4 linked regions of the Homo sapiens genome follow. The protein of the gene in region 3 interacts with the protein of the main gene of each other region in a pairwise test. Each region holds a gene or a part of one and is shown on either strand. Other genes may lie near its edges.

What was found. Proteins that work in one complex are often made in the same cells at the same time.
Region 1: the proteins of CEP76 (region 3) and CRYBA4 interact in binary tests that used the Homo sapiens proteins (3 or more experiments, as listed by UniProt).
Region 2: the proteins of CEP76 (region 3) and TCF19 interact in binary tests that used the Homo sapiens proteins (3 or more experiments, as listed by UniProt).
Region 4: the proteins of CEP76 (region 3) and PLA2G6 interact in binary tests that used the Homo sapiens proteins (3 or more experiments, as listed by UniProt).

Annotation. Positions count from the first base shown.
Region 1 is NC_000022.11:26,620,585-26,624,762, reverse strand, and holds the start of CRYBA4 (beta-crystallin A4), read right to left. Parts: upstream 2,801-4,178; 5' UTR 2,777-2,800; intron 2,179-2,776; coding exon of another isoform or gene 2,167-2,178; coding exon 2,128-2,166; intron 1,530-2,127; coding exon 1,411-1,529; intron 1-1,410. UniProt on the Homo sapiens protein: Crystallins are the dominant structural components of the vertebrate eye lens.
Region 2 is NC_000006.12:31,161,589-31,164,715, forward strand, and holds the end of TCF19 (transcription factor 19), read left to right. Parts: coding exon 1-417; intron 418-888; coding exon 889-1,129; 3' UTR 1,130-1,228; coding exon of another isoform or gene 1,229-1,238; 3' UTR 1,239-2,627; downstream 2,628-3,127. Other genes in the region: POU5F1 (POU domain, class 5, transcription factor 1), read right to left, coding at 3,013-3,127. UniProt on the Homo sapiens protein: Potential transcription factor that may play a role in the regulation of genes involved in cell cycle G1/S transition. May bind to regulatory elements of genes, including the promoter of the transcription factor FOXO1.
Region 3 is NC_000018.10:12,692,724-12,696,223, reverse strand, and holds part of CEP76 (centrosomal protein of 76 kDa), read left to right. Parts: intron 1-872; coding exon 873-970; intron 971-3,500. UniProt on the Homo sapiens protein: Centrosomal protein involved in regulation of centriole duplication. Required to limit centriole duplication to once per cell cycle by preventing centriole reduplication.
Region 4 is NC_000022.11:38,113,413-38,115,830, reverse strand, and holds part of PLA2G6 (85/88 kDa calcium-independent phospholipase A2), read left to right. Parts: intron 1-149; coding exon 150-304; intron 305-2,176; coding exon 2,177-2,344; intron 2,345-2,418. UniProt on the Homo sapiens protein: Calcium-independent phospholipase involved in phospholipid remodeling with implications in cellular membrane homeostasis, mitochondrial integrity and signal transduction.

The DNA of each region.
Region 1 (4,178 bases), on a different chromosome or scaffold from region 3:
GGACAAGGGACACAGGAGGCTGCACCTTGCCTTTACTGTCTGTATAAGTAATAAACTGTCTGAATCTATCCAAGCTCATTGTCTGCTTACTGGCTGAGTCTGTCAGCCTGCTGGACATACCCCTAGAAAGCCTCTGTTCCCATCTGACCCCCATTCCCCACCTGCACAAATCAGAAGCTAAAAGAGTATTTACTAAAGCATGAGATGTGCAAAAATCACCCAAGATGACCTCAGGTGGCACTCACAGGTGTAGCATTAAGTGACTCCAAATCTCCTATCTACTTTCCAAACTTCTACAACCTTCTATCCAATATGGTAGCTACTGGCCACATCTCCTGTCTATCTACTTTCCAACTTTCTAGAACCTTCTATCCAATATGGTAGCTACTGGCCACATTGCCTTTCTAGCTACTTTCCAACCTTCTAGAACCTTCTATCCAATATGGAAGCTACTGGCCACATCTCCTTTCGATCTACTTTCCAAACTTCTAGAACTTTTATCCAGTATGGTAGCTACTGGCCACACCTCCTTTCTATTTACTTTCCTGCCTTCTAGAAACTTCTATCCAATATGGTAGCTACTGGCCACATCTTTCCAACTACTTTCCAAACTTCTAGAGCCTTCTATCCAATATGGTAGCTACTGGCCACATCTCCTTTCTACCTGCTTTCCAACCTTCTAGAACCTTCTATCTAATATGGTAGCCACTGGCCATATGTAGCTAATTAAATTTAAACTTAAATAAATTAAGATTAAACAAGATTCAGTTCTCTACTCATGCTGGCTACCTTTCAAATCCTCAATGGTCACATCTGGCCAGTGGCTCTGAAATGGATGGTGTAGATGTAGAACATCTCCATCATTGCAGACAGGTCCACTGAATGACACTGGTCTAGAAAGTCTTGGTGTGTTATTAGTGTGTCCTTAACACCTCTCTGTGTCTCACTAATCTCTCTCTCTCACTCTCTTTTTTGTTTTTTAATTTTTTTTTTTTTTACAAAAAATGATCAGGCCACATGCTTAGCAGCAAGACTATTTAGCTAAAAATTAATAGCATTAAAACATTATGTTTATTTTTACAGTTACCTTCTACTTTAGGCGGGTGATGTTGGCTTTCAATTTACGGCTGGGAGGGACATTTTTAGATCCAACACTGGATTCTAAGGATCTCCTGCAGAACTGCCTCATCCAGTGGGCAGGGTCTGTGTAAATGGCACCCTCCTACTGTTGGGCAGTGCGCAACCTGCATAATCTTACATGGCAGTCCTGCACACTCCTCAGTACTTCAGGAGGGCACAACAGTAAGAGCCTAGGGAGAGGGGACCTAGAATATCTAAAAGTCCTAGCACCCGTCTCTAGGTCCCTTCCTGTCCACCCTCTACCCCAACTCAGTGTCCCCCTAGACTCACGCTCCACTCAGCACTTTCAAAGATCGCACAGTCTCGAAGCCAAGCTCCAGCACGCTGGGGCACTCGGCCGTGAACTCGTGCCGCCGGCCCTGGAAGCCGTCCTCATCCCACACCACCATCTGTGCCAGGAAAAAAAAAAGGTGGAGATCCGCATCAGAGTCCCGTGAAGGGTGAGAGGTTGGGGGCTCGCCCCAGGATCTGGCAGGTAAAGCAGGGATTGCAAACTCAGATTCCTCCAGGAGCCAGGAAGGCAAGAGCAGTGATAAATGTGAGACACTAGACAGCACAGGTGCCAGGTAAATGGGTGGCCTCTTCCCAGTGCCACCAATGGTTGCCAAGTGGGAATGCAGGCCAGACCTTCCAATTTCTCAAGACAATCACTAGATCTGGACTTTTATGTGGTTCTTCCAGGCTTTTAAAGGCTGATGATAAATCCAAAAGCTTTATAAAACAAACAAACACACACAGAGATGGTCAAAGAAATCATGCCCAAAGACTGCAACCTCTGCCAAAGAGTGTAACAGGTCAACTTTGGGAACCAGAAGACCCAAATTCACATTCAACCTCCCTGTATGTGACATACAAGTCCCTTCTCAACTCTGAGCCTTGATTGCACCTCTGTGAAATAGGCATTTATAATGCCCCCCTCCTAGGATTCATGGGGACCTGAACCCTCCCCATACCCCCTGAACACCCCCTCCCCATGCCTCTTCCTACCTTCCAGGGTCCCGCTGACTTTGTGCATTGCAGGGTCATTGTGGCCCCTTCCTGCAGAAGAGAAGAACATTATAATCTTCCACCCTGACCCTCTGCTCTCCTCTTTATGCAGATGGCTGGCTTGGACCTGGTCAGGATCCACATAGGGAGTCCAGGAGTGACTGGGCTAGGGGCAATGCATGGCTTTGGCCTGTCCCTCTCCTGTCCTTTCCATCTGTCACCAATGCCATCTTCCATCCTATCCCCATCTCAAAACTCACCCTTGCTGGGTCTCATTGACTCTGAGCCCCACTCTGTATTCTCTTATCTGCTTGTTATGGGAAAATTTTTGTGGCTGCTGGTGGGTGGGTGCATCACCCCAGCGAGTGCTGAAATGCTCAGCATAAGAGAGCCCTTCCAAAGACAGCACCTAGCTCAAAGAGGTAGCTCTGATGGTGGAAATTTAGGCAATAGGGCTACAGGAATAATTTGTTTTTAAATGAGGGAAGCAGGTGCTGGTCTTGATGGTTGGGGCTCATCCTTGGTTAGGATGAGGATGGCATTCAGGATGACACAGTGACATCCCTAGGACTGGGGACCTGGGTTCCTCGCCTCCCAGAATGCTCACTCAGAACTCTGATCCCACCCCTCCTCCAAACCTGGGACTTACCGAGATAGGCCCAGGGAACATGTCAGATCTGAGACCAGCCGAGGTCGGGCTCTTATAGGCAGGGAGGGAAGAGGGGCCCCTGGGAGACAAAGCCCCGACTCAGCAACTGGGCCACAGAAACAAAAGCCAGCCCTGGCTGAAGAGCCAATGGCAAGCCGTCAGCAGCTCTGGCTTTAGCAGGGAGGGAAAGGACCAGATCACCACCCCCAGGGATCAGCCACGAAGAAGGAGAGAGGTGGAATATTGGCCCTCATCAGCCCCACAAGGTTCCTGACTAGAGCAGGAGAATGAGCACTAGATGAGGAGTCCAGAAGCATCCTTCCTAGCTATGTGAGCTCCAGCGAGTCATTTCCCCTCAATTTCTGCCTATAAAATGGGGCAGAAACAAACCATATCACAGAGTTGTTGTGAGGTTACATAACATGCCTGGTACAGAGTAAACATTCAGGAAATGCCTATTCCTTTCCTTCTCTCTTTCCCCTTTCTCTTCCAGTTGAAGCAATCCAGATAGGCTTGCCGTTAGAGGAGGCATTTGAACTAGACTCTGAAGGATGAGGAAGATATGTACAGAGTGAGATGGAAGGAGAGGCATTCTAAGAAAAAGTTCAGAGGTGGGAACTTGGGGCACATGTACAAGAAAGAGCTGGTAGCCCAATTGGCCTGGAGCTCAGGGGACCTGAAGGGAAGTGAGGCAGGAGAAGAGGGCTAGGCCAGGGCCTGCTGGGTCCACAAAGCCTGAAGATGAATCCGGATGGCACTGTGGGCAGCATAGAGGAGCTGTTAGTTGCAAACATGCTTTGCAAACTGTGGCACACTTGCCAAATATCCAGGACTTGTACAATTTGCTGTGTGCCTCTTGTCCCGAAACCCTGCCCTCTGAATTGGCGTATGAGGGACCTAAGAGGTCCCTCATACATACATACTTGTGTGTAAAATGGGTGTAACAAGCATAGGAAAACAGCATGACTGGAAACCAGATCATCTGAGATGAAATCCAGCCCTGCTTCTTTCTTACCATCCGTGTGACCTGGAGGACACCTGAGTCCTGCTCATGACCTGTAAAGTGGCCACACCAGTTTCCTTTTAAGAGGGTGAAATGCAGCTCTATCAAACGCATGACTTTAGGCTGGGCGCAATGGCTCACGCCTGTAATCTCAGCACTTTGGGAGGCCGAGGTGGGTGGATCACCTGAGGTCAGGAGTTCAAGACCAGGCTGGCCAACATGGTGAAACCCCGTCTCTACTAAAAACACAAAAATTAGCCGGGAGTAGCGCGGGCGCCTGTAATCCCAGCTACTAGGGAGGCTGAGGCAGGAGAATTGCTTGAACCTGGAGGCAGGGGTTTCAGTGAGCCAAGATCATGCCATTTCTCTTGACCCTGGGTGACAGAGCAAGACCCCGTC
Region 2 (3,127 bases), on a different chromosome or scaffold from region 3:
GCCTCAGGACTTTGCTGCCATTACCATCCCACGGTCTAGGGGAGAAGCCCGGGTTGGGGCTGGTTTCCGGCCTATGCTGCCCTCCCAGGGGGCTCCACAGCGGCCTCTCAGCACCTTCTCCCCTGCCCCCAAGGCCACACTGATCCTAAACTCCATAGGCAGCCTCAGCAAGCTCCGGCCCCAGCCCCTCACCTTCTCCCCTAGTTGGGGTGGACCAAAGAGCCTGCCTGTTCCCGCCCCACCTGGGGAAATGGGGACCACGCCTTCTGCTCCACCACAACGCAATCGGAGGAAATCTGTTCACCGAGTGTTGGCGGAACTGGATGATGAGAGTGAGCCTCCTGAGAACCCGCCACCGGTCCTTATGGAGCCCAGGAAGAAACTCCGTGTAGACAAAGCCCCACTGACTCCCACTGGGTAAGTGGAGTCCTCACTTGGCCCTCTCAGTGTTTTACTGCTTTTCGATTCCTTGTATCCCTAGGCTGTGAGGAGGTCCCCCTGCCTGGGGGGATGGGCACGGGAGGTGGAATAGATGGAATGGCAAGACCTGGGTTAGCTCTGATAGGAAAAGAAAAATATGTGCAGGAGAACATGAGAGGTGGGGTGGGGCAGTGCTTATAAAACAACCGGAGTGAGCATGTCCTGCTTTTTACATTCATATGGCTTTAACCCCATTCTTCTAGTGCCTAAGGATGGGGAACTTTCAGGCTCATACTAGAGGTTTTTAGGCCCACCCTATGTGTTTTTAAGGACAGAGTCCAGGCTCACCTTAGTTCTCAGACCACTGTGCCTCTGTGGCCTCACCCTATGACCAGCCATAGGGTGGCAAGGTCTAGGCCTTCTCCTACAGGTTTCCGGTGACCCTTGTGTCTGTGTCACTTCCTTCAGAAATCGACGTGGCCGTCCTCGGAAGTACCCAGTGAGCGCTCCCATGGCTCCCCCTGCAGTTGGGGGCGGGGAGCCCTGTGCAGCTCCTTGTTGCTGCCTGCCCCAGGAAGAGACAGTGGCCTGGGTTCAGTGTGATGGCTGTGACGTCTGGTTCCATGTGGCCTGTGTTGGCTGCAGCATCCAGGCTGCCAGGGAGGCCGACTTCCGATGCCCAGGGTGCCGGGCTGGCATTCAGACCTAAGGTCCACTGCCAAGGCACCATCGGACACACCTGCCCATGAGTAGACACAGCAGCGAGCAAATAGGTCTGATAAATACCCCCCTTCCCTTCCCTCCCCAGGAGGGAATGACTACAGGGAAGAAGGATGGATTGATGTGGACTCATTCAGGGCCTGGAGCAGACCCTGGTGGCCAAGACAGAAGAGATGGTTTCCTGCCAAAGATATTGCCACCTCCAGGAAATTGCCAGTGAGCTGGAAGTTCCCACTATTACAAGCCATAAGGCCATGTTGCCATGGACACCAGAATATCTGTAGTCAGAGCACCTATCAGTTGCAAAAGCCATGCCTGCAACCGATGGAAAATGTAAGAGGGAGTTCTTAAGGTTCTTGGTGGCATCACCCAAGGCATTCTGGGAAAACCTAGGGCCTGGCCCCAAAACTTCCCTACTCTGTGGCTAGTCCTGCTGCCAACAAAATCGTAGCGACCTGGCTTTTCACAGCTTTGCTTTTATTTCCAAGTCAAGGACAAGCCGCTTCATTCACTCCTGGGCATTTACTCTTCTTGTGGGTCTGTGATATTCCTTGCTTTCCAGGGAGAATGTGCTTGGCAAGGTCTGGAGAACTAATTCAGAATCTTAGGGGAAGGGGAGAGATGGAAATACAAACCTGCTTACTGGAAAGGTGCAAATATATGGGTTGAGCTGGAGGTAGGAATACAGGTAATTAAGGTTTCTAGTTTAAGGGAAAACAGATCTATTGCCATTTAAATAAGGTAACTGGGATTTGGTTAAGTTCACAAAGATAGCAGAAGATTTATTTACAGGCTTCACCTGTACTGTCAGGGCAAGAGAAAGCCTGGTAAACCAGCTACAGCAGTTTACCAGTGTGATGGCTGTGACACAGCTCCACTCCACGGGTGGACACAGCAGAGGGCAACTGGGCTGGCCTGGTTCAGTGTGAATCAAACCGCTTAACCCACACATGGTACATGTGATTTTCTTTTGTGAGCCTTACACCAAGCCAAACTATTGTCAAAGCATCATTTCTATAGAAATAAAGCCTTATCTTGACCTGTTCTATTAAAACCTGCCACACCCGCCCTTTCCTACCTAGATTTAATGAGCCCAAGTTTTTAAAATGGAAGAAATGACTCTGGGGCAAAGACCCCTAATGAACTAGTGGCAGAGCCAGGAATAAAACTTGAGTAACTAATGAGTCACTTATGGGCAGAGTATGCAAAAACCTTAAGTGGAAACCAAATAGACCCTGGTATCAAGAAAGCACAAAGTATTAATAGAAGTTTCTGGTTGGGGTGATCTAGGTTCAACAGAAATAAGATGATTTCTAAGTATAAAGCCATTTAAGAATTCCAGAGTAGGGTGGGAAAGCAAAAAGCCAGCTCTGAACAGGTAACAGCTACATGGTGACTGAGTCTATGGGCAAAAGTTCTTGCATCACAGGCTTTTGGGAACTAGCCTATCACAGGGCCCTGTACAAATAAACTTGGCTGCAATCCCAGCTCTCCCTCTGATGTTGTGTGACCTTAAGGAGTGTAAATGGCACCTTAGTTTCAGGGTCACTTGGGTATGAGCATTGGATATTCCCATCCCTACCTCAGTAACTGAAGGACAAACCAAGATAAGTGTGTCTATCTACTGTGTCCCAGGCTTCTTTATTTAAGAAAAAAGTGATACATGATGTGGGATTAAAATCAAGAGCATCATTGAACTTCACCTTCCCTCCAACCAGTTGCCCCAAACTCCCCTGCCCCCACCCTTTGTGTTCCCAATTCCTTCCTTAGTGAATGAAGAACTTAATCCCAAAAACCCTGGCACAAACTCCAGGTTTTCTTTCCCTAGCTCCTCCCCTCCCCCTGTCCCCCATTCCTAGAAGGGCAGGCACCTCAGTTTGAATGCATGGGAGAGCCCAGAGTGGTGACGGAGACAGGGGGAAAGGCTTCCCCCTCAGGGAAAGGGACCGAGGAGTACAGTGCAGTGAAGTGAGGGCTCCCATAGCCT
Region 3 (3,500 bases):
AGTAATTTAGATTTTAATAAGTCATACCAAGAATGTATTTTTCTTTAAATAAAAATTATAGAAAAAGTGTCCTTTATGTAAGAAATTTATTTTCAAAAACAATACCCAATTTGTCTTCAAAAATAGGCCTAACATGATAATCGTAGCAGTGACCTGGAAACAAGCAGATTCTGATTCACTGAAGAAACATTAAATCGTTTTGATGTGAAGTATATTTGTTTTCTAGTTCTTTAAATCCAGGCATGGATTGAAAATTTCTACTCAGCCTGTAATTGGATAATGGGGAGTGACAAATGGGAGTTACTATAAGTGACAATATAAATGCTTTCTAATTTTTAGTGTGTGTGTGTGTGTGTGTGTGTGTGTGTGTGGAGAAGGAATGAGGTGTTAACAGTTGCTTTGACTTTGAATTTAATGTAAGTCTGGTTGATATTATACATTTAATTAAGACAAAAATTAAGAGTCTCAAATCCTTTAAGTCAGAAAAGTTTCTTAAAACCTGTTAGAAAAGCCAGGTGTAGTGGCTCATGCCTGTAATCCCACCAAGCACTTTGGAAGGCTGAGGCAGGAATATCACTTGAGCCCTGGAGTTTAAGACCAACCTGAATAACATAGGGAGACCCCATCTCTACTTAAAGAAGAAAAAGAGTGTCAGAAAGCTAAGAAAATAATCTCCTTATAATTAAACACCTTTGTTTAAAAAAATTGATTTGGTTCATTTTAATATGAATATTAAAGGTAATGTTGAATGTTATCTTTATTCCATGTAAGTGATAAAACACCCAAGTGCCTAAATTATTTTGGTTAGACTTTGGTTGACTAAATATATATAGTATTGAAATCTCTGAAGTTCAAAATATTTATGTTTATAGGCACAGAATCAAAAGTTTCTGTGGGAATTTTAAATATAAAACTTGAAATGTATCCACCACTCAATCAAACGTTATCTCAAGAAGTAGTGAACACACAGGTAAATACTTATGAGTTTCTCTTTTTTTGTGTGTTTGTTTTCATAGTAGTATATTTACCTGTTGATCCTAGAAAGCACTCTATTTTTAGAAAATTACCATTTATTACTTTCTAGATTAGCACTCAAAGGTTCACAAAAAGGATGAGGAAGAAAATAAAGACAAGATTGTTTTCCTAGCAGAATCTGTAGTCTAGTTTAGGAAATACGATGAACATTTATTGAGACAGCATAAGAATTACAGGATAGGCCGGTGGCTCACGCCTGTAGTCCCAGCACTTTGGGAGGCCGAGGCGGGCGGATCACAAGGTCAGGAGATCGTGACCATCCTGGCTAACACGGTGAAACCCCGCCTCTACTAAAAATACAAAAAAAAAAAATAGCCGGGCGTGGTGGCAGGCACCTGTAGTACCAGCTACCCGGGAGGCTGAGGCAGGAGAATGGCGTGAACCGGTAAGAGGAGCTTGCAGTGAGCCCAGATCGCACCAGTGCACTCCAGCCTGGGCAACAGAGCAAGACTCCATCTCAAAAAAAGAAAAAAAAAAAAAGAATTACAGGATAAAGCTGAAGAAGATCAAAGAGTAAAGTGCAACCTCAGTGGGATGGGATTTTAACGTTCTTTCGCAGGCGTTTATTGAAAGCTTGCTGCTTATGTCTTTTCTGCTCTGTTCTCTCAGGGTAGAAGTGCTTGCCACTTTTAGAGTGTGTTTGGAGAGGCTTTTTTCCCTAATTCCACTGTCAGGTCTCTGATGAATTACTTTCTTCCTGGGTCTTAAAAGATCGGCAGATTTTTTCATTCCTTCACATTGGATTTGCCATCCATGTTTAGTTCTTGCCAGTCTTTAGTTTGGAGGTTCTCATTATCTGCTGACTTGCCGGGATGGCACTTGTGGAATGGTTCTCCTTGATTACATACACCACCCTTTACTCCACCCTGCCTGTCATATTGTTCCTTTTACAGACCTGTGGTTAGACGCTAGTGCTTCTCCCTCAGGCAAACAATGTCCTGCCCTGTTTTCTTTAAACTTTTTTTCCTTCCTTTTGTAAACTCTCATCTCCCTCTAATCTCTAGCTTCTGACATGTGTCATGGGTGGTATATATACCTGAAACCACATAGTGAGAACCAACTTTGATGTTACTCAAATAAATACCCAGCCCTGTGGGAGGCTAAGGTGGGTGGATCACTTTTGAGTCCAGCAGTTTAGGACCAGCTTGGGCAACATAGTGAGACCCTGTCTCTACAAAAATTTTAAAAAATTAGTCAAGCATGGTGGTACATACTTGTAGTCCCAGCTGCTTGGGAAGCTGAAATGGGAGGATTGCTTGACCCAGGAATTTGAGGTTACAGTGAGCTGTGATTGTACCACTGCACACTAGCCTGGGTTACAGACTAAGACCCTGTCTCTTAAATAAATGGTGTATACACACATATACATTATGTGTATACGTGAGGGGTTTTTTTGTTTGTTTTTTTCAGACAGAGTCTCGCTCTGTCGCCAGGTTGGAGTGCAGTGGCGCAATCTTGGCTCACTGCAACGTCTGCCTGCCGAGTTCAAGCAATTCTCCTGCCTCAGTCTCCTGAGTAGCTGGGACTACAGGTGGGTGCCACCACGCCCAGCTAATTTTTGTATTTTTAATAGAGACAGGGTTTCACCATGTTGGCCAGGATGGTCTCGATCTCTTGACCTCGTGATCTGCCTGCCTCGGCCTCCCAAAGTGGTATACATGAGTTTTAATCATGTTATTCATATATTTATGTGACATATAAAGTAAATGTTTGGGCTCTACTTTTTTGGGGTAGTAGCTTGTTTTTTTTAATTAAATTTTATTTTTTTAGAGACAGCATCTCACTCTCTCAGGCTTGAGTGCAGTGGTGTGATTATAGCTCACTGAAACCTCAGACTCCCAGCCTCAAGCAATCCACCTGCCTCAGCCTCCCAAAACATTGGGATTGCAGACATGGACCATTGTGCCCCACCAGGTTCTCCTTTTTAAACTTAACATTATTTTATATGTATTTTCTTATATTTCCACTGTCATATTTATAATTTCTAGTGACTAAAACATAAGTTTATTCTATTATCTGATAAATAAATTGCTTCTAATTTTCTCTTTAAAATTGCACTATTAAAACTTTTAGCCAGGCTAATTAATCTGTAATCCCAGCACTTTGGGAGGCCAAGGTAAGAGGATCACTTCAGGCCAGGAGTTCAAGACCAGCCTGGGCAACATAGGTAGACTTCATCTCTACAAAAATTTTTAAAAATTAACTGCACATGGTGGTGCATTCCTGTAGTCCCAGCTACTGGGGAGGCTGAGGTGGGAGGATCGCTTAAGCCCAGGAATTCGAGGCTACAGTGAGCCATGATCATGCAGTAGCACTCCAGACTGGGTGACAGAGCAAGACCCTGTCTCTTAAAAGAAATTAAAGTCAGAAATATGTATGGATCCTAAATAGATGTCAAAATGTGCTAGACACTGTTCTAGACACTGGAGATGTAGCTGTGTATAGGGCAGCAGACAGCTAGACAG
Region 4 (2,418 bases), on a different chromosome or scaffold from region 3:
GTGGCTTCGTGGGTCCTGCTTCTGAAGAGTTCCCAGCCTCCCCTCTTCCCGCACCCCCAGCCCCCAACACGCACACCCTGAGATCTGGAGTGCATGGGTTTTATGCCAGTCCCTTGTGCCACTGGGCCGCCCTCCTTCCCCGCCCCTAGACCAGCTGGTGTGGCGGGCGGCCCGAAGCAGCGGGGCAGCTCCTACTTACTTCCGACCCAATGGGCGCTTCCTGGACGGTGGGCTGCTGGCCAACAACCCCACGCTGGATGCCATGACCGAGATCCATGAGTACAATCAGGACCTGATCCGCAAGGTGAGTGCCGTAGGCCAGAGGGCCTGGACCCACTGCTCCCTGGAGCCAATCCTGTGTCAGCAAACCATGCTAGGGACCGACCCCCAGGACAGCAGGTGGCTTTTACACACGCACTCATTCATATGTGCACACAGGGCAAATTGATCTCACTGGAACCTGTTCCATGGGTGGGATCTGCCTGAAGCACTGTGCTAAGGGGGATCTGAGGACCACTGTGCTCTAAGTGTGCATGAGTGGGGAGGGCGGCATGCATACCATGAACGTGCCACTCGAGCCAGCCTGGGGACAGGACACATGCTTGCCCTTGAGCTCACCTCTGTGGATAGACAGTCCCACAGGAATGCCTGTCCCCACGGGTTGCCGGTGCTGTGGTGGAGGACCGTGAGGCCTCTGCTAAAAGGCCTGGGGGCTCGGAAAGGGCTCCATGGAACAGGGGACCCATCCTGAGGCCCTTGGGGACAGAGCAGTGCAGAATCAGTGATCTGGAGGAAGAGCAGCAGCCCTCTCTCTGCAGAGGTACAGCAGAGGCTGGCAGGACCCAGCATGCTAGGGGAGGCCCTGTGGCGTGGCGGGCGGTGGGTGACCGGGGTGGGCGAGCGCGGTGGCTGAGCTCAGACCCTGGAGCCAGGGCGCCTCTGGGGGTCCCCGTTCTGCCTGCACTCACTGCAGCTACCTAATGGGGCCATCATAGCGCCTGCCTGGGGAGGCTGCGAGGCCTTGGCATGCTGTTGTCTGTGAAATGTTCACAGCACTGCCGGGAGCCTGAGCTGCATCCTTGCTGCTGTGGTTTCCCGAAGCCCCAGGGCGTCCTGGGCAGCGCAGCAGAGGCTCTGGGCAGACAGAGAAGCGCCCTCTAGGGGCCAGATCGGGCAGGGCGGGCTTCCTGCAGGCGGCAGAGACCGTCAGACTGTCAGACACTAGCCAGTCTAACTCTCCTATTGCGTGCGGATGGGGAGCCTGGGACCCAGAGTGGGAGGCATCACCCAAGATCATCCAGCAAATCGGCAGCAGAGCTTGTTCGGAAGCAAATAAGAGAGGCAGCGGCCGGGCGCAGCGGCTCACGCCTGTAATCCCAGCACTTTGGGAGGCCGAGGCAAGTGGATCATGAGGTCAGGAGATCGAGACCATCCTGGCTAACACGGTGAAACCCTGTCTCTACTAAAAATACAAAAAAATTAGCCAGGCGGGCATAGTGGCAGGAGCCTGTAGTCCCAGCTACTCGGGATGCTGAGGCAGGAGAATGGTGTGAACCCAGGAGGCGGAGCTTGCAGTGAGCCGAGATCGCGCCACTGCACTCCAGACTGGGAGACAGAGCGAGACTCCGTCTCAAAAAAAAAAAAAAAAAGGCAGCACCCAGGGCTCAGGTTCAAGCCTTAGCCCCTACTTCCCTACCACGTGGCCCCTGCAGCTGCTTCCCGGCCTGAGCTTCGCTGAGAGCCCTCATTTGCAAACTGGGTGATCAGTGCCCTCTCCACAGACTGGCTGGAGATTAAATGAAGTAATGATGCAAATACCTGGCAAATCACCAACACCAAGGAACACCGTCTGCCTTTCCTCCCCTGGCCACGACTTGACTTGGGCCAGCATCAGATGGGGTGGGCGGGATCCTTCTTGCAGCTGGTGTATGTGTGGTCCTGTTGGTACACAGATGCTGTCCTGAGCAGATGGCATGTGATGCCCGCACCAGCCGTTCTGGGGTCACGTGCAAGAGGCTGGCTGGAAATCATGCCAGGCATGCTCTTGCCACCAGAGACCTCTTGCCCTGTTCTCATGTGCCCCAGAGCCCAGTCTTGGGCCTCCCCTTGACGCTCCCCTTCGTGCCCCCTACCTGTGGAAGGTCTCTTCTGACTGCCCCTGTCCTGTTCCCAACAGGGTCAGGCCAACAAGGTGAAGAAACTCTCCATCGTTGTCTCCCTGGGGACAGGGAGGTCCCCACAAGTGCCTGTGACCTGTGTGGATGTCTTCCGTCCCAGCAACCCCTGGGAGCTGGCCAAGACTGTTTTTGGGGCCAAGGAACTGGGCAAGATGGTGGTGGACTGTGTGAGTGTGGGCCCCTCCCCCAGGCCACTTCCCTCAGGGTCTGTAGCCCAGGTCGATGGCTTCCCCTCATCCTG